Homo sapiens: one gene and its partners. The protein of the gene in region 1 purifies or fractionates together with the protein of each later gene. This does not show direct contact. Each region holds a gene or a part of one and is shown in the gene's direction. Other genes may lie near its edges. The genes, in order: VPS33A, VPS41 and TGFBRAP1.

Evidence for each region.
Region 2: the proteins of VPS33A (region 1) and VPS41 purify together in Homo sapiens (affinity purification with mass spectrometry; 7 studies listed by BioGRID and IntAct, with this or other methods). This does not show direct contact.
Region 3: the proteins of VPS33A (region 1) and TGFBRAP1 purify together in Homo sapiens (co-immunoprecipitation; 5 studies listed by BioGRID and IntAct, with this or other methods). This does not show direct contact.

Annotation. Positions count from the first base shown.
Region 1 is NC_000012.12:122,229,037-122,235,578, reverse strand, and holds the end of VPS33A (vacuolar protein sorting-associated protein 33A), read left to right. Parts: intron 1-2,610; coding exon 2,611-2,779; intron 2,780-3,151; coding exon 3,152-3,333; 3' UTR 3,334-6,015; downstream 6,016-6,542.
Region 2 is NC_000007.14:38,752,192-38,759,302, reverse strand, and holds part of VPS41 (vacuolar protein sorting-associated protein 41 homolog), read left to right. Parts: intron 1-821; coding exon 822-949; intron 950-2,320; coding exon 2,321-2,465; intron 2,466-4,366; coding exon 4,367-4,408; intron 4,409-4,550; coding exon 4,551-4,601; intron 4,602-6,989; coding exon 6,990-7,111. UniProt on the Homo sapiens protein: Plays a role in vesicle-mediated protein trafficking to lysosomal compartments including the endocytic membrane transport and autophagic pathways. Acts as a component of the HOPS endosomal tethering complex.
Region 3 is NC_000002.12:105,305,706-105,312,816, reverse strand, and holds part of TGFBRAP1 (transforming growth factor-beta receptor-associated protein 1), read left to right. Parts: intron 1-4,498; 5' UTR 4,499-4,515; coding exon 4,516-5,203; intron 5,204-7,111. UniProt on the Homo sapiens protein: Plays a role in the TGF-beta/activin signaling pathway. It associates with inactive heteromeric TGF-beta and activin receptor complexes, mainly through the type II receptor, and is released upon activation of signaling.

The DNA of each region.
Region 1 (6,542 bases):
TTTAATAAAGATGTGGGCTGGGCGCGGTGGCTCACACCTATAATCCCAGCACTTTGGGAGGCCGAGGCGGGCAGATCACTTGAGCTCAGGAGTTTGAGAACAGCCTGACTAACATGGGAAACCCCATCTCTACTAAAAATACAAAAATTAGCCCAGCATTGTGGTGCGTGCCTGTAATCCCATCTACTTGGGGGGCTGAGGCAGGAGAATTGCTTGAACCTGGGAGGCGGAGGTTGTAGTGAGCTCAGATCATGCCATTGCACTCCAGCCTGGGCGACAGAGCAAGACTCTGTCTCAAAAAAAAAAAAAAAAAAGTTATGGGGCAGGCTCGGTGGCTCATTCTTGTAATCCCAGTATATTGGGAGGCTGAAGGGTCAGATCGCTTGAGTCCAGGAGTTCGAGACCAGCCTGGGCAACATGGCAAAACCTTGTCTCTACAAAAAAAATGGCCAGTGGTAGTATGAGCCTTTAGTCCGAGGGGCTGTGGTTAGAGGATCACTGAGCCCAGGAGGCGGTTGCAGTGAACCATGTTTGTGCCACTGCACTCCAGGCTGGGCTACACAGTAAGACTCTGTCTCAAATAAATAAAGATGTGGGAAGAGTGGAGAGGCAGTGCAGTGGGGAGCCCTTGCCAGCCACGGCCTGAAGGACAAGGAGAGGGGGGTGTTCTAGAAACTTGTCTTAGAACCTGGAGAGAAGAGCTGTGGTGAGGCCATCTGGTGAGGTAAGGGGTGAGGGGCCTCTGGCTGAGGGTATGGTCAACCTCCAGCAGAGGAAGCTGGCCAGTGACAACGTCATCCTCACACTGCTGCCCACTCTCCAGTTCACTCTGGTGCTTTGTCTTGGTCAGACCCAAAGAGAAGGCATTGGAGTGTGTTGGTGTGGGACGCACAGGTCCATCTCCGGGCACAGAGCATTGCGGAGAAGGGTGGAGAGTGTCTAGAGGAGTCAGTGGAGATGTCCAGCACTCATAAACAAGCCAGCCATGGCCAGGCGCGGTGGCTCACACCTGTAATTCCAGCACTTTGGGAGGCCAAGGCAGGAGGATCACTTGAGGTCAGGAGTTCAAGACCAGCCTGGCCAACATGGTGAAACCCTGTCTCTACTAAAAAATACAAAAGTGATCAGGGCATGGTGGAGCATGCATCTGTAGGCCCAGCTACTGTACTCAGAAGGCTGAGGTGGGAGCCTCCCAGGAGGCTGAGCCTGGGAGGTTGAGGCTACAGTGAGCTGAGATTGCACTGCTGCACTCCAGCATGGGCGACAGAATGAGACCCTATCTCAAAAAGAAAAAGAAAAAGGGAAAAAAAAAGCTATGCAAAAGCAGGGCCATCAGGGCCAAGTGAGTTTCCTTCCACAGTTTCCCCTCAGAGGCAGCCACTGTGGCCAGTTTTTTATCTATCCTTCCAGAAAGATTCTGTGCATATACATTTTTACATAAAGAGTGCATATTCTCTACTGTTGGTCTCCAAAGTGGGGTGCACTTTGCTTTACATTTATTACTTATTCTAATGTTTCTAAATTTCAGTCTTTTTTGGTTTTTCATAAGGAACTTTATTAGGCCGCCTCTTGCAACAAAAGCTCATAACTAGACAGTCTCCTCTGTCAGGAGCAAAATTAAATGATTTTTTCCCGGTGGGAAAATAGAGACCCTTAATGTCTAGAGTCTATCATGTACATATTAGTTCAGCTGTCTTCACTGTTCTGACCTTTCTGACTCTGGACCCACCCACCACTTAACAAAGGATCTTGAAGGGTCTTCTGTGATCTTCCCCTTCTTTTTAATTTTTCTAAATTGCTACATAGTGGTTTTGAGGCTATACCTTATTTAATGATTTAACAGATTGCTATTGATAGAAATTCAGGTTGTTTCCAGTCTTTACTGTTACATGCAGTGTTGCAGTTAATACGTTTATACTTTGGTCTATTATCTTTTGTTCTGCAAGCACCTCTGTAGGATTAATGCCTAAAAGTAGAATTGCTAAGTTCAAAGGTTATTGCACATCATTGCTCAGCTAGGGAGTGCCAAGTTCCCCCCAATATGTTTCATGCTGGCTGGACGCGGTGGCTCAGGCCTGTAATCCCAACACTTTGGGAGGCCGAGGCAGGTGGATCACCTGAGGTCAGAAATTCAAGACCAGCCTGGCCAACATGGTGAAACCCTGTCTCTACTAAAAATACAACAATGAGCCAGGAGTGGTGGTGCACACCTGTAATCCCAGCTCTTTGGGAGCCTGAGGCAGGAGAATTGCTTGAACTAGGGAGGCGGAGGTTGCAGTGAGCTGAAATTATGCCACTGCACTCCAGCCTGGGTGACAGAGCCAGACTCTGTCTCAAAAAAAAAAAAAAAGTTTCATGCCAAACCAAATAATTCTTCATCTTCTGTACCTAGAGCTGCTTTGAGTGGCTTTTCAAGATTTCAGTCAAAATTGAAGCTCTGGCTGCTAAAAATTGAGCCCAGCTAGGGTGGATTAGAACAAGGCATGGCAGGGGTGGGGGTTGTATATCTTTAAATCCAAATCAAATAATTTTGGATTACCCAAAAGGCCACAGTCAGGTAGCTCTAAGTCTCTGTATCTATAGGGTTTTTGTTCTTTAATTATCTCACAGAACCCCACGGACATATCGTATGTGTACAGTGGGTATGCCCCGCTCAGTGTGCGGCTGGCCCAGCTGCTTTCCCGGCCTGGCTGGCGGAGCATCGAGGAGGTCCTCCGCATCCTCCCAGGGCCCCACTTTGAGGAGCGGCAGCCACTGCCCACAGGACTGCAGAAGAAACGTAAGTCCCAGTCCAGCATCTACAGATAATTATGTACTGTTAGTGTGGTTTTCAGGTATTGTACAGTTGCTTTGTAAAATAGTAAAGCACTTAGGAGTCAGAATTAAATACACCTCTTTTGTTCGTTGCTAATGTATGTAGTAAGAACTCGAATCGGATTATTCCCTGAGGGATAGCAGCTTTCAACTTCTGTGTTGAGAATCTCAGAAGTTAAAAAAAAATGTTGAGATCAAAATCAGTATTCTTAGGTTTCAGATGAACTGTCTGGATGAAGGCACTTGTTTATTCTTATGAATGATAAAATGTTTGAAGAGGTGGGAAGAGAAGCATTAATAATAAATAGTTTTTAATTCTGAAATGTTTAAATTTTAGGTCAACCGGGAGAAAACCGAGTGACTCTGATATTTTTCCTTGGGGGCGTAACCTTCGCTGAAATTGCTGCCCTGCGATTTCTCTCCCAGTTGGAAGATGGAGGTACAGAATATGTCATTGCCACCACTAAACTAATGAATGGAACCAGTTGGATAGAGGCTCTGATGGAAAAACCTTTCTAGGATGTTCAGAGGAGACTTAACAAGTGTACTGCAGAATAAACTACCTCTTTGAAGAAATTGCTGAAAGGAAGTAAAACCCCATAGAAGAAACATGGGAATACAGAATATATTCTGGGGTCAGCTTCTTAAATTATACTACTGTTTACTGCTTTCTCCGTCTCTTTTGTATTCCCTTTTTTTTTTTCCTTTGAGACGGAGTCTTGCTCTGTCACCCAGACTAGAGTGCAGTGGCACGGTCTCACCTCACTGCAACCTCCACCTCCTAGGTTCAAGCAATTCTCCTGCCTCAGCCTCCTGAGTAGCTGGGACTACAGGCATGCACCACCACACCCGGCTAATTTTTGTATTTTTAGTAGCCATGGTGTTTCACCATGTTGGCCAGGCTGGTCTCAAACTCCTGACCTCAGGTGATCCACCTGCCTCGGCCTCCCACAGTGCTGGGATTACAGGCCTGAGCCACCGTGCCTGGCCCCTAATCTGCTGAAGAAAGAAGAATAGAAGAAAATCAACCTGAGTAAAAGCAGCACTGGTTTTGAGTTTTCTAAGCTCAGGGTCTTCATTAGAGACCTCTGGAAATACATTAAGGATGGTGGGGGTAGATAATCCATTCAGCCAGACAAACGGGGCCAGCTCTTAAAATAAGAAAGCTGAGACTGAGGAGGTGAAACTGAAAATAAAAAGAGAAAGTTCATCCTCTAATCCCCAGTGCTGTATTTCTTCAAGGCGCATCAGGCCTAGGACAGTGGTTAAGTGTTGGGAGCTGGAGATCATTTTATCACTGAGTTGAGATTTCTTTTTCCTGCAGAGTGTGGGAGATTATATTTAGGGTCATCAGTCACTGTCGCAACTGATCACTAAGGCAAGTTTGCTTCCTTCTACTTCTTACAAAGCAAGAGGTTTAGGGGAGCTTCTTGCCCAGAAACAAAGTTTATGCTCTATGTGATCAGCTACATCTCCTTAGGTTCCATACTTATCAGGGGCTTTTGACATGGAAGAATGTGATAATTGGGGAGCAACCTTCTGAGAATTCAGCCTTTGAAGTAATTCAAAGACAGTTTCTTAGCACACACGTTAACTCCAGACACAGCAGTGGTGGGTGCCTCCATTGAGGTTTCCGTTTTCTCTTCTGTCCATCAAGGGCCCAACATCCAACTGGTCCCACAGTGAGCAGGGGCAACTCTTGCTTCTTCAGCATCTGGCCACTTCGTTTCCATGGTAACTGCCACGTGTACTTTTCTAGCAGTCTGTGGCCACTCCGTACTCAGCTGAAAACACTGTTTCAGCCCCCTCTCTGGTGACCTCAGCCTTCTCCAGGTGTATCTCTTGATGATCTTGGAGACCAGCAGCCACAGCTGCTGCTACTCCTGCAGGAGACTGTCAGGCTGTGGTGGGGGGCAGGGGTGTTGGAGGAGAAGTTGAAAATCCGTGTGTTCTCTGCCCCTCTGCTCCTCCATCTTAGCTTCTGGAGGAGTTAAGGCACCAAGGGCACCAAGTCAGGTTGGCAGTTTTGCTGCCCTTGCCCAAGCCTCCAGCAAAACTAGCTGGTCCCCTGCTTTGCTGGGTCCCAGCCAGGTGTGATTTTGGTTGTTGATTAGTAACCACACATTGTTTTTCCCCACCTTTTTCATTAGTGGAGGTTTTTGTTTTGTTTTGTTTTTGTTTGTTTGAGACAGAGTCTCACGCTCTTTTCAGACTGGAGTGCAGTGGTGCGATGTCAGCTCACTGCAACCTCCACTTCCCGGGTTCAGACGATTCTCATGCCTCAGCCTCCTGAGTAGCTGGGATTACAGATGTGCACCACCACACCTGGCTAATTTTTGTATTTTTAGTAGAGATGGGGTTTCACCATATTGGCCAGGCTGGTCTCAAACTCCTGACCTCAGGCGATTGGCCCACCTCGGCCTCCCAAAGTGCTGGGATTACAGGTGTGAACCACCGTGCCCGGCCCATTAGTGGAGTTCTGATGGGCACGGTAAATATTATTAATGAAAGAGAAATTCTGTATACTTTTTTAAAAATCTCTTTAATGAAAGAATGAAGAGTGGCAGAGATAATAATTGAAAGATTAGTTTCTCATGGAATTAATTTGGCCTTGATATTCAGTATTTGGAAATGTCTTAAAGAAAACCATTTTCATTGTAGAAAATCCTTTTTTAAATACTTGTTATATCCCAGGGAGATTAGTTTATACCTTCCACCTCAGGCAGTCATCAGCTGCTTTAGAGAATGGAATCCACCCTGCCCCTCCATTTTTTGGTTCCTGGGGCTCAATTCAAGTCTGGTCAAGTCTCCCTGGCTGGGGATTCTGTCCTGGGAACAGATACTCAGTTGTAGTCTCATGTGTCTGCACTCACCCAAGACTCTATATACTTGCTTGCTCAGAGCATAGTTAGGGCAGCTCCTAAAAATGCATTCAGCAGAAGACTGAAAAACTTCAATTGCTTCATTTGTATGCAAATAGAAAATGGTAGATAATTATATATTATACGCCTTTGTGTAAGTTCATTTAATACTTGAAGCAGTCTTTGTCTCAAAAGAGTATGCCCTTACTGAGAAAGGATATGTGAACGGTACATTTATTGTTGGGGAGAGTGGATTGTTTACATCATGTCTGGACTTTTGTCTAGTTGGGTAGACAGTTCTACACCAGCAGCCCCCTTAATAAAGAAGTCTACACAGACACTGTTTTGTGTCTTGCTATAGAGTGTTGAATTCTAACCAACAGAGAATTAAGTATTTTGTTAATTGTGGAGCAAAAGAGTAATGGTTGAAAGAGGGATGATTTAAAACAGCACATTTAATTCTCAGAGAAAACTGGGACAGTCTCATTGTGAGTTCTATTCGATTCAGATCTGCCCTCACTGCAAATGGATTATGATTAAGCATGATGTGTTGGTCGGTCTTGTTCTCAGTTGTACACTAAAGACCAGCCTGTCACCAGGAGGAAGTGTTTGTATTGAGCAGAGTTTAATTCAAGAAGAAATTATTTTTTTGAGATGAGGTCTTATTCTGTTGCCCAGGCTGGAGTGCAGTGGCACAATCATAGCTCACCACAGCCTTGAACTTCTGGGCTCAAGCAGTCCTCCTGCCTCAGTCTCACGAGTAGCTGGGACTATAGCAAAGCACCACCACACCCAGCAATTTTTTTTTCTTCCTTTTAGAGACAGGGTCTTTGTTGCTCAAACTCCTGGCCTCAAGAGAAATAATTC
Region 2 (7,111 bases), on another chromosome or scaffold:
AGCAATTAGTTCTGCAGTGGACACCAGCTGGATGTCCTCTAATTCAGTTCATTCTGACACTGTCTACATGAAGATAGCATCAGTTCCTGCAGGCTGAGGGCTCAGGCCCACAAGACTGCCCCCACTTCAGACATACCAATCACAAGTTATAGGCTGTCACCTGTACTTCCGACTGGTCAACTATAAACTGGAATTCCCACTACCACCTCCTTAGATTTGACTCATTTGCTAGAGCAGCTCATAGAACTCAGGGGAACACTTTACTTACATTTACTGGTTTATTATAAAGAATATTGCAAAGGATACAGATGAACAGCCAAATGGATTAGATGCAGAGGGCAAGGTATGTGGGAAGAGGCATGGAGCTTCCAGGTCCTCTTTGGGTGCACCACCCTCCAGGAACCTCCAGGTGTTCAGCTCTTGGGGAGCCCTCCAAAGCCACTCCTTTTGGGTTTTAATGAAAGCTTCATTACTTAGACATGATTGATTTAAACACTGGGCCATTGGTGATCGGTGTAACCTTCAGCCCCTCTCCCCTCCTTGGAGGTTGTGGGGCAGGGGTGGGGGTAGGGCTGAAAAGTTCCAACCCTTTAATCCTGTCTCAGTCTATCCTGTGCCCAACCCCATCCTTAAGTTACCTAGGGGCTGCTAGCCACCAGTCAGCTCATTAGCATACAAGAAGACACATCATTTTAGAGATTCTAAGGATTTTGAGAGTTATATGCCAGGAAACAGAAGGAGGACCAAATGTATATTTCACAATATCACAACTATTATTCTGTTGAATGAGTGTTCTTTTTCTGTTTTTCACCTTTGGTTAGGGTTTTGCCACATTGATCCGAGAATGGCCTGGAGATCTGTATAATAATTCAGTCATAGTTCAAGCAGTTCGGGATCATTTGAAGAAAGATAGTCAGAACAAGACTTTACTTAAAACCCTGGCAGAATTGTGAGTATACTTAAGTGTTTCTTTTTCCATATCAGTCTGTGTTGAAAAGTTTTTCATACTTTAGATTTGGCAAACTCCAAGTGGAGAAGATGTATTTTATACCATTTTCCTACATTCCTTCTTAGTAAAAACCTCTCATAAACCTCAAATGAGTAGGCGATAAGGACATGTGTGAAACTGTACAATTGCAATGTAATCTGTTTCCCAGAGAAGAGAACCCCTAACGCACAGCGCTTGGGAGAGGCAGTGGTTAGGAAACAAAAGGGTGCCAAGTTTTAGATCACTCAAGCATAACAGTTTCCCAATGAGCAAGGCTCTGGATTCTGCTCTTCTAGGGTCTTCAAGTCAGTTAATTTAATCTCTCAAATGTCAATTCCTTATGGGAAAATTTTAAACTTTAAAAGAGATGTCATAATAGAGGACTCCCTGACCCTGAGTCAGGGCTCAGAAAATGGCAGCTTGGTTAATATTTTTCATATTTCTTGGGCACATTCAGTGATGCAGGCTTTGTGCGAGACGCTTATGATACAGAGATAGATAAGATATGCTCTCAAGTACTTCGATCTAGGGAAACAAGAAGTATACTGCAGGTCTAGCCAAGACGACCATCCCTGCATCCACCTCTCCTCAGTGCCCCCATCACCTCAGGCCACTCCTCTCCCTTGTTTTTTCTTCTTTTGCCCAAAACCAAAAAAGGTATACCAAAATGACCTAGAACTCTGGACGTGTTGGATTTTCCACAAGAGGAGGTTGTGTTTATGGCATTCTAAGTTGAAATGCTAATCATTTTCTCTTGGAAACGTTGTCCTGTTAGATACCCCTTAGAGTCTGCAGCACGTTCGTAATGGACCAACAGTACAGCTTCAGTTCAGTGAGCTCTCAAGAGCTGACTTAGGGACTTAATGTGAAAAACATTGTTTCAATGGAAAAACACATTTCAGTTAGACACAGCCCCCTTAAAATCAGCTTTTGGAATATTAGCCATTTGTCAGCTGAATACTGCTTGTAAGAATTGGAACGGATGTTTCTGTTACTAAAATGAGAACTTCATCCTGGATCCTAGTTTCTTTGCTGTATGGATGTTTGTAAAACTTTTGAGACTGAGACCCCCAATAAAGACCATTTTTATTACTTGAATATTGTGAATTTTCTTAAATTTTGGCAACATGAGAGGCAAAGTTCTGAGAAAGAAATACTTATTGGTCGTGTATAGTTAAATCCTATTCAAAAATAGGAATATTTTTTGAAATAAAGTTAACTTTTCTCTCTAAAGGAGTGTTTCCATTTTTAATATTGTGAACCATGATCTCTCTGTGTGTGTTTTAATTAGAACTGTTGATGAATATTAATGTAAAAAATTTGTATTACCAGGTACACCTATGACAAGAACTATGGCAATGCTCTGGAAATATACTTAACATTAAGACATAAAGACGTTTTTCAGTTGATCCACAAGCATAATCTTTTCAGTTCTATCAAGGATAAAATTGTTTTATTAATGGATTTTGATTCAGAGGTAATGTGCTTTTTATTTTAGTACTGTCAATTATTTTTACTATTCCAAATATTTAATACTTAGATATCTATCCAAATGCTGGATTGGTGAATGAATCACATAACTTGGCTTTATGCCGACAATCTTTAGAACACTCTGACCCTCGCTAGATGTTGTTATTCTAGTTGTTTGGCATTCAGGAATCCTTTTCATAATGTAGTTATTCTGTGAAAGCAATTCAAAGTTGATAGAGAACTTTTAAAGTTGTGTGTGTGCGCATATAAAGTAATTTCTTGCTAAAACAATTCATATAATTTATAGAAACAAACCACGTATATACTTTGACTCATTTATCCCTCCTAACCTGTTTTCCAGAATTTTAAAATTAAGTGAACTTCCATCTTGACCGACTTATTACTATTTTATTTCTTGGTGTTCACGTATCCAGCATGTGGGGTTTCCCCTGGTTTGAGGTGATGCTCATGTCCAGGACATGTGGAATGTTATTTTATTGTGTGACAAATTTGAATAACCTAATAATAAATTTACGCCCCCTAATGAGTGGACCCAGCCACAGCTCACATTGGTGCTTGCAAAGTGATGCAAGCTGTGTGTGTGTGTGTGTGTGTGTGTGTGTGTGTGTGTAAAAGAAATCTAATTACAAGTGCTCATGACAGAAATAATGAGGTTTATAAAACAGTGTTCTTATTCAAAAAATTGAAATTTTAGATAAACCTAAAAGTAGAACCCTAAAGGCTCCAAAAGGATTAATGCATTTTTCAATTATATTGTACTGTATTTAGAGATATTGTGTGCTATATTAATCTCCACCAACTTAAACTTAATTTAGATAGGAGCTAGAGCTACGTCTTTTTCTCAAAGATGCTTTAGCCCTTTTTAAAATACTGAGTCAAGTCTTTAGGGACTACAGATTTACGAAGAATTACGTAGCTCCAAGGAAGTTCAGGTAGAGAGGCTCTGCTTGTCTGGCAGAGGATGAGATGCTTATGTAAAAATTAATTACATTTTCCTCATATCTAGTCTCCCCTCATGCACCCCCTTCCATTGTTCTCCAGAGCTCGTTTTGCATATGTTCCTGTGGAAAAAAGATGAATGAGCTGAAACTAATTGCTATTCTAGAATGTGATCCAGATGTAAGGAATCAGAGTCTTCTGGTTAGAAGAGACCTTAGGGATAATCTACTCCAACACCCTCGTATTTCAGAGAACAAAAGTAACATTTGGAGCAGACAGCTAGGTCGTAGCAGAGTCTAGAACAGGGCCCCCAGGTGTTCCGTGTGAGGCTCAGTCTGGTGTGCTGCTTTCCCTCTTCCTCTTGACATAAACTGTCTAGTTTGTGTTTCCTGAATGATAAAAGTGGCTAAAGTAAATTCTGAAAGTCCAAAAGCTTTATGTCATTATGAAACTTCAGGTATCTCATTCTCTTTCTGACTCTTATTCCCTTCTCCTCATAAAACCAGCTCCTTCTGTCTGTGGAGTCTCATAGGGAGACTAGGTCGAGGTTGAAGTAGCTGGAAGAAAAGCTCATTTTCTTGATATACTGGTAAAGAGATGCTCTCCATAACTACTGAGAGTCTCATGAGAAGGTGTGAAGGTATCCGAGACATCGGAGGGCGGGGGGCTAGGATATGGGCAGTCAAGATGTTTTGTATTTGGGAAGTTATAGCAAAGCACCATTTTAGTAGTGTGCAAAACACATAGGCTTCAGATTGAGATGCATTTGAAAATGCAGTTCTTCACAAATGTCATTTTCCATAAGAGCCATTGTAAAGCCAAGGGCCTCCTTAAGTATACAAAATAAGCCTTCCACCTGTGAACTGTGGTAGGTACACTGCATTGTGTTTAGTCTTCTCTTCTTAAATAACGGATTTCATTGACTGTGGCTTTTCTTATATGTTTCAGAAAGCTGTTGACATGCTTTTGGACAATGAAGATAAAATTTCAGTGAGTGTCATTTGTTTTTATATGTGTTACCAGATGAACGTCTGGGACTCCTATAGCTGTGAAGAAGAGAGTTTATCAGATAATTTTGTAGCTGTCTTTCTGTCCTCATGACTCCACCTTGAAACTTTTCTTTTTTATCTAGATTAAAAAGGTAGTGGAAGAATTGGAAGACAGACCAGAGCTACAGCATGTGGTGAGCATGGCAGTCTCCTCCTTTTGCCCTTTTGATTGACCAGTGGGTGAATCACCTTTCAGTATTGGTGCGAGGAGGATACTGGAGTGAATTCTTCAAGGAGGTTAATATTCCAGTTGGAGGTTTCACCACAAACAATGTTCTGTAATTACCAAAATGCAGCATATGCTGTGAATTCAAGGTCAGGGATTAATTGTAGATCAGGCAGTTGAATTTTGACCCACAATTGAATTGTGATGGAAAAAAGTTACCAATCTATCTATTATATTACTATAATATAAATATATGTAACATAACTATATATTTAACTATAATGAATGTTTTTGTGTTATGTTGTGTCTAGGAATAAGCACTCTCCCTCTGTAGTTGCCATTAAATATAACCATGGCATATATCACAGTAAAGGCCAGTATGGCACCGCAGATACTGTACCAAGTTCTCCTGCTAAGGAAATGTCAGACAACCATTCCATATCCAGACCACAGAGCGATAAAAGGGCAGAGTCTCATTTCTTTTGTCCCTCACCATGACAATAGCTAATTCCATATTTCTTGTGTGCTATTGGTGGTTGTGTAATTAAGGCCTGTTATTCTAGATTTCTTTGGGGGGCTACTTCAATTCTCTGCATTGCATCATCATGAGAGTAAAGCAGGAATAGTTGTTTTCTATGTCCTTTAAAAGTTATACAAGAGAAAACTTAGCACACTTAGGGATTATATCAGTAGGACTATGGGTATCAGATACAATAAGTGCACTTGTATCTTTGCCCATCTCATTGCACCCTAGGAGGAGGCTTAGGGAATAGAGCATTTTTTTCAAAAGTCAGTTTTCTGCTTTGAAGCTTTTGAAGACTGCAGGAAGGGAATGAGAGGCACCTTTTTTTCTCTTTTGCTCAGATGCTACTGCTGCATTGTTCATGATTGGAAATCTCAAGATTATCTGCTTCCCAAGCAAGGCTCCACATTGCTAACCACCTTAGGAATTCATTTATAAAGCAGTGATTTCTGACTTACTTAAGCCAGGAGACAGGATTATGGGCAGTAGCTCTCTGTGCGACAATGTAATCAGTGCAATGGTGAAGTGGTGGCACAGCCCACACTAACATGGCTCATCTTCCCTGCCAGGCAATGTCTTGTTTCTATATATATAAATTTGACTCAGCATTCATGTGACAGGGCCTCCCTGTCCTTTTTGCACTCTGGGAAACAGCACCACATATCCCCGCTAACACACTGACCCCAGTGCCAGTGGACTGGCGGTGGTGTTCATCAGACCTCTGCCTGGCACATGAGTTCAGTCTACTGCTTGTACTGCTCCGTTTTGCCTTAGGAAGAAGTGAACAGGAAGCCTGAAGATTGGTTTCTTAAGGTGCATGTGTCCATGGTTAGGCGTCATTGTGACTAGATTCAACAGCAATAACAAACATCAGCGCATTTACAGTCTCAGCTGCAGGGCGGCTGGTGCTCTATGTCTGTTATAAACCAATCCACTTGGAAACAGCAACCCAAGGTGTTAATGCTCGTGGGATTGGTGATTAAGTCTTCCTGTCTTCAGTAGATTGTGGGGTTTTTGTTTACATTTAATATTAACTAAACATTGAATTGTTTTTTGACTTCTGAGTACTGTATTGATAGACTTAATCTTGCCTGTGAGGAGAAAGTGAATTACTGATTTCCTGTGAAGTTAACTTTTTTTCAGACAGCTAAGGTAAGGAATCAGTTTTGAAAACTGTTTCAGAACACCTGCATTCTTCTTGATTTTTACTTTGTATTTTTGTTTTTGATGTTACCAGTTTAGGCAGCATTTCATTTGAAGAGTCAACAAAGAGGAGATGCAGAATGTATGGAAATGAGTTTAGTGCCCGCTACTTGAGTTTTTAAGAATATGTGCTTGTCCCAGGACTCTACCCTCTTTTGTGTAAAATAATTTTTATGATCTGGGAAGACCACTCATCTTTTTATTTCTGAGCCAAAGCAGATACCAATGATGATATTGACAACTACTGTCATTAACATTTCTGTAGTTCTTAGTGTATGCTAAGTTCATTGGTTCTGAGTGATTTCGTAATGGCAACTCGTTTAATTGTCACAGTAACTCAATAAAATTTTTGTAGATAAACTGAGTCTCAGAGAGATTAGTGACTTGCCTAAGGTCACAGTTGGTACGTGGCAGAGTCAGGTTTTGGGGCCCTTCTAGAGAAATTATCGGAATCCTTTGCTCTCCCAAAGGGTTTTCCTTTCCACTTCTCCATCACCTAGAGGTTTTCCCTGAAGACTGCTTCTCCCCCAACCTGTCCATGGGAGGTGTTTAGAGCTAAAAATAGCAATGTTAGCCAGGTATTGCTTTTCTCATTTTAATGGGTCACGGCTTATCTTTTGTTCCTTTTAGTATTTGCATAAGCTTTTCAAGAGAGACCACCATAAGGGGCAGCGTTACCATGAAAAACAGATCAGTCTTTATGCTGAATATGATCGACCAAACTTACTTCCCTTTCTCCGAGACAGTACCCA
Region 3 (7,111 bases), on another chromosome or scaffold:
TCTTTTAAAGTGATGCCAGATACTGACTAAAAGATAATGTTTCTGTGTACATTTGTAGAAAAAGATTTGTATTTTTACATTAGCATCTTTAAAGATGCTGACTAAGATTCTGACTATCACCAGTGGCAGAATCTTTAAAATGACAATGTGCATATTCTTAACCTGGTAGGAAATAATTACTAATATTTTTATTTTGACCCTTAGCATGTATTGCTTTATACTATTACTGATTTATTTTTCTAGTCCTATTTCCTTAATAGGACGGGGAGACTCTTAGGAAGTGGGATTGTGTCTTGTAATTGTTTAGTTTTTTGCAAACTTAGAGGTGCTTGCTGCATATGCAAGGTTAGCTTAATTAAATTATGGTCCTTGAGCATCCTAGCATTTTCCAATCTCTTCCCTACCTGGGTATGTATTTTGAAATTTTAAGAAAACATTAAAATGTTGATCTTTTAAATTATTATAATCATACTTTTAAAGTGAATTTTTTAAATTTAATATTCTTATTTTTTTTAAAAATAGAGACCAAGTCTCAATATTTTGCCCAGGCTGGTCTTGAACTCTTGGGCACAAGTGATCTTCCTGCCTGGGCCTCTCAAAGTGTTAGGATTATAGGTAAGCCTTAAAGTGAAGTTCTAACAAAAAGTTTAAATTTTCGATCATTTTGAGATCACACAGTAAAGTATGAATTTTACACCTTAGAGAAACGTTTCCTTTTGAAACATTACCATGTTGAAACTTCTCTGATTCAGAACCCCAGCAAGTTATATTTAATAGAGGTGTGGCCTAAAGTTTATCTTTTTATGATTCATATTTTATCTAAGTAAATATATCATGTGAATTAGATCATGGAGAGAATTTTCCCACTGCTTAAAAAAAATAGTTTTTTAAATTAATTTTTTTTTTTTGAGATGGAGTTTTGCTCCTGTCACCCAGGCTGGAGTGCAGTGGTACGATCTCGGCTCACTGCACCCTCTGCCTCCCAGTTCAAGCGATTCTCCTGCCTCAGCCTCCTGAATAGCTGGAATTACAGGTGCCCGCCACCATGCCTGGCTAACTTTTTTTTGTGTGTGTATTTTTAGTAGAGACGGGGTTTTGCCATGTTGGGCAGGCTGGTCTTGAACTCCTGACCTCAGGTGATCCGCCTGCCTCAGCCTCCCAAAATGGTGGGATTACAGGTGTGAGCCACCACTCCTAGCCAATTTTTTTTTCTTTTTTCTTTTTTTTTCTGTGTGAAAGCATCTCACACTGTTTCCCAGGCTGGAGAGCGGTGGTGCAATCATGGCTCACTGAAGCCGCAAACCACTGGGCTCAAGCAACCCTCCTACCTCAGCCTCCTGAGGAGGAGGGAATACAGGTGTGCCCCACCAGGTCTGGCTAAGTTTTTATATTTTTTTTGTAGAGACAGGGTTAAGGATAAGTCATTTTTAAGTGCTAGCATGTTACTTCTTCAGCTTTCATTTACCTCCATGTAATTCTGCATTATTACCATTTAATTACCAAAGCAAGTCCTTAATTTAAAGGCCTATAATAGGAAGCTTATCTTTAGCAAGGCTTGAATAACAGTTTACTAGATAATGAAACAATATTGCATTTGTTTTTAAATATTATAGAGTTATGACTTTTTAGTAAACCATATGTTTTTTTGTTTTTTGTTTTTTTTTTTTTTTTACAGCTCTCTCTCCCTCTCCCCTTCTCTATCTACCCCAGGATTTAGACTAAATATGAGGCGTTTGATTCTTTCTATAATATTCTTTACTGCAAATGTGTTTAGTTTATCCCTTATGCTAACTGAAGACAGGGGCTGGAATTATGAATATTATACTTTTAAGAAGCTAAATAAAAGGAGTTTGATTGTAGGTGCCCAGAGTTTGTTTCTCTATTCCTTCCGCAAAGGGAGACACAATTTATATTTTAAATGGCAGAACTGCTTACTCCTGCCATTTAAAAAAGACAACCCTGATTGATTAATCAATGAAGGAAGAAGTATTTTGTATTACTTCACTTTCACTAACTTAGATGTCTGGAAGCTGACATTTCAATATCTGGGTTTTACTCATTAGCTCTTAAATGGAGAAAAAAATGTTGTCTAGGTGGGTTTTGGTGGTTATGTTTGGTTGGGACAAATACATGATGTTGTTTAAGAGCTGTTTGTGCCAGAGACTATTTGTAGAAGCCTGCAAGAGTTCTGCACTCGGCCTCACCTGGGATTCTGGGGATGTTCCCACAGCCCCGAGGTAGATGGACATGATTCCTTCTCTGTGGTGCCTTTAGAACCTCCCTCTACACTTCCCCCAGCTCTTTTCCATAGTTTCTGTGAAGATGAGCTCCCGTAGGTGAGTGTGAAGATGTCTTAGGGGTGGGGCAGGTGTGTGAGTGTGTGTTCTGGCTTATGATGCAGGCTGTGTTTTGGCGGAGGTGAACAGGTTACCCATATCTGAGGACAGAAGACAGCATAGTCTAATCTCTTGGTGCCCAGCTTGGGAAATAAACACCTGAAGCAAGCTGGTAGTTTGAGAGAGGAGTGAGAGCTGATCCAGACTGGGAGGGAATCATAGTATTTATGATGAGATCCAAAAGTTTGAGTGCTGTGTGCCAGCTGTCCGCATTTTATATGAGGTCACTTACTTAATCGTCCAACAATCCTATGAAGTAGGTACCGTTATTCTCATTTCACAGATGAGGCAGTTGAGGCTGGAATAGCCAAGTGTCCATTCCAGCTGCTGTAACAAACTACCATACACTAGGTAATTAATAGATAATAGAAATGTATTGCTTACCGTTCATGGAGGCTGGGAAGTCCAAGATTAAGGCATGGTAGGCTCAGTGTTTGGTGAGGGCCCATCCCTCAGGGGTGGTGCCTTGCAGCTGCCTCCTCACATAGTGGATGGAAGGAACAAATAAGCTCTCTGGGGCCTCTTTAATAAGGGCACTAATGCCATTCATAAGGGCTCCACCCTCATGACCTAATCACCTCCCCACCTCCCAACACTACCACTCTGGGGATTAAGTTCCAACATATGAATTTTAGGGGGACACAGACATTCTGACCATAGCACCAAGTAATTTGCTCAAGTGATGGGAAGAAAACAGGAAGGACTGATGTGTCTACAGACAAGCCTCCTCCTCAACCCTGGGGTATCCTCCCTCCTGGGGGTTTTGTAGAGCTAAGGAAGGGGGCTGGAGTCTCACTTGTGTGTAGCTGTCATTGCCCCCATGGATGGGGGCAGACACAAAATTGTAGAATTCCAAATTTTCTATTTGAAAGGCACCAAAGAAGTTCTCTGATTCCTTCCCTTCCCTGATGCGTGAACCTTTCTTGAATATTTCTGAGAGGTCTTCCCTGCTTTGCTGGAATGCCTCCAAGTATTAGGAACTTAAGCTCTCATGAAGCAGCACTGTTCCATGTTCAGACAACTTGAGATGAGGAAGTGACAGTGATAGCAGCCTTTCACTTCAAGCTCTCTGAACATGCAGCAGTGCTGACGCAAGCCCAGCCAGCTGCCCTGCAGCTCCCGTCATTCTCTGCAGTCCTCTTTCCAGCTCTCTGATCCCCTGCCCTGCTCCCGCTCACAGGGACTGTGCCTTTGAGTTTGCTTCTGGCTGCCTGAGAAGTCAGAAAGGCCACCTTGCCTGATCTTCTCCCTGTGACTTTGTGGAGTGTGAAGCCACAGTTCTCTGCAGAAGATGAAGTAGGAGGCGACGGGCTAGTGTGTGGGAAAGTCTCACTTCCAATGGGAGCCAGGGACCGGTCGGTCCACACATCCACTAAATAGCTCCACTCACCATCTGAAAGCCTTTCGAGATCCGAGGCACACCTTTACTCTCCACATGAATACATTTACTCCGGAGCTGAGGCTGATGCGCCTGCCTTATTGGGAAGAACACAAAGGAATCCAAGGCCTGGCGTCTGCCTCGGTGTTCCTGGCAGGATCCTGTGACTGTGGTTGTGTTCATTGACTAAAGTGCATATTCAAGTAGCTGTAGAAACTCAGGGAAGATCAGTGAGGATCATTTCTGCCTTTTTCAGAAATCCTTTTTGTTTTTTTTTTTAAATGGGGTCTCATTATATTGCCCAGGCTGGCCTCCAGCTCCTGGGGTCAAGCCATCCTCCTGCCTCACAGAAATCCTTTTGTTATGTTGCCCGTGGGTGAATGCATGCATTTGTCTTCTGCCTTCAAGCGTGTCTCCCAGGAGCAATGTGAGGAGGCTCCAGGTGACTCTGTGTGGGGACTGAGCAGGATGGCACGTGATCACAAGCACATACATATGTGTATATGGGTGTGTGTGTGTGTATGTGTCTGTGGTTTTCTTCTTGGGTCTTCTGCTGTCTGATGGGGGAGGTCTGTGGGGAAATGGTTTCTTTCCATTTTTTGATAGCGTGGAATGACTTTCTTTAATGAAAATGACAACTAGGGAATCCACGTATCATTATTGCAGCCTCTGTTTCTGCTTCTTCCTTGTTCCTCTAAAATTAGTTTTCCTCTTTCTCTTCCAGCAGATCAGCCAGTAGACATGATGAGCATCAAAGCCTTTACGCTTGTCTCTGCTGTGGAGCGGGAGCTGCTGATGGGCGACAAGGAGCGCGTCAACATAGAGTGCGTGGAGTGCTGCGGCAGGGACCTCTACGTGGGCACCAACGACTGCTTCGTCTACCACTTCCTGTTGGAGGAGAGGCCAGTGCCTGCTGGGCCAGCCACGTTCACTGCCACCAAACAGCTGCAGAGACACTTGGGCTTCAAGAAGCCCGTGAACGAGCTGCGTGCGGCCTCAGCACTCAACAGGCTGCTGGTGCTGTGTGACAACTCCATCAGCCTGGTCAACATGCTGAACCTCGAGCCAGTGCCTTCGGGGGCCCGCATCAAGGGGGCAGCCACGTTTGCACTGAACGAGAACCCTGTGAGTGGGGACCCCTTCTGTGTAGAAGTTTGCATCATCTCTGTCAAACGCAGAACCATCCAGATGTTTCTGGTGTACGAGGACCGGGTGCAGATCGTCAAGGAGGTGTCGACTGCCGAGCAGCCCCTCGCTGTGGCTGTGGACGGCCACTTCCTGTGTCTGGCTCTGACCACTCAGTACATCATCCACAATTACAGCACAGGCGTCTCCCAGGACCTGTTTCCCTACTGCAGTGAGGAGAGGCCGCCGATCGTCAAGAGGATAGGGAGACAGGAGTTCCTGCTGGCGGGCCCCGGAGGGCTGGGTGAGGAGGATGCATTTGTGCGCCTGATCTTTTTGGGTGGCCTCGGTGACTGCGTGTTGAAACTGGAGAGTGAGATTGGCGCTGTGCAGAATAAATCCTCAGTGACATTGGGCGTGTGTGGCAAGACAGAGGTAGCAGTGCTTGACCAGTGCTTGATGAAATCCAGTTCGATTGTTCTGTGAACGTGGGGTTGGAGTCATAAAACCAGTTTCTTTCACATTAAAGTGGAGCTTGAAGACAGCTCTGGTGGTGTTACCGGGAAGTGGGGATATTCTCAGCCCTTAGTCATCTTGGGAGAAAGATTTTGGCCAAGAGACAATTCAGAGATAGCAGAGAGCTTTCTGAAGGGAAATAGAGAACAGAGAATTTATATGGAGAGAGACAGTACGTTCTGAAAGATGAGGCAGAGTGGGATGCTGAGAGAGTGAGCCAGCAGCCCTGAGAGTTCTGCATCGGGTTTTTATGATGCTGGAGTTTTTCTTGAAGTTCCCACCTCTGTCTTAAAGTTTCTGCCTTTTTCCTTTGTCTAGTTTTCCCGCTTCTGCCTTAAGTCCCCACCTTTTCCTCCCACCTAATTTCTACTCTAAGCTTGTGGGACCCTCTCTTACTAGTAGTTGGTGCACATGTACAGCCGGTGTTGGATGTGAATCCCACCTAATGGCTGCATTGCTCATTACCTCCACCCCAGGAAGGTTGTACAGCGGTTAGGTCCATACTTACTGCACCTGAATGTCTCTTTGGAATTTCTCCTTTACCCTCTTTCCCTCCTCTCTGCTCATATCTAGCATGCATGTTTTGTTTGTTTGTTTTGTTTTGAGACAGAGTCTCGCTTTATTGCCCAGGCTGGAGTGCAGTGGCACAGTATCGGCTCACTGCAACCTCTACCTCCCAGGTTCAAGCGATTCTCCCTGCCTCAACCTTCCAAATAGCTGAGATTTCAGGCATGCACCACCATGCCTGGCTAATTTTTGTATTTTTGGTAGAGATGGGGTTTCACCATGTTGGCCAGGTTGGTCTTGAACTCCTGACCTCAAGGGATCCACCCACCTCGGCCTCCCAAAGTGCTGGGATTACAAGCATCAGCCACCATGCCTGGCCAGCATGCATCTTTTTGATGGTCTCTGGGATGTGGGATTTTCCAGACCTCCCTTTTCTCAGGGGCTCTTCCCTCCCATTCATGTCTAGCTAGCTATCTACCCACTCTTAACAGTGGGAAAATTCTTTTAAGTAAATAACTACAAAAATAACTCTGGGCTGGGCGCAGTGGCTCACGCCTATAATCCCAGCACTTTGGGAGGCCAAAGCAGGTGGATCACCTGTGGTGGGGAGTTCGAGACCATCCTGACCAACATGGAGAAACCCTGTCTCTACTAAAAATACAAAATTAGCCGGGCATGGTGGTGCATGCCTGTAATCCCAGCTACTCAGGAAGCTGAGGCAGGAGAATTGCTTGAACCCAGGAGGCAGCAGTTGCGGTGAGCTGAGATCACGCCATTGCACTCCAGCCTGGGCAGCAAGAGGGAAACTGTCTCAAAAAAAAAAAAACAAAAAACAAAAAACAAAAAACCAGAAAACTCCGTAAGGGTTCCTGGTAAGATTTTCCCACAAGAGTGGGTTGTCATTTGATTGTTTTTGCTCCTCATTCTAAAAAGTTGTTGAGGCTGGGCTAGGTGGCTCACGCCTGTAATCCCAGCACTTTGGGATGCCGAAGCAGGCAGATCACCTGAGGTCAGTAGTTCGAGACCAGCCTGGCCAAAAGGTGAAACCCTATCTCTACTAAAAATACAAAAATTAGCCTGGTGTGGTGGTGGGCACCTGTAATCCCAGCTACTCAGGAGGCTGAGGCAGGAGAATCACTTGGGCGGAGGTTACAGTGAGCTGAGATCGTGCCACTGCACTCCAGCCTGG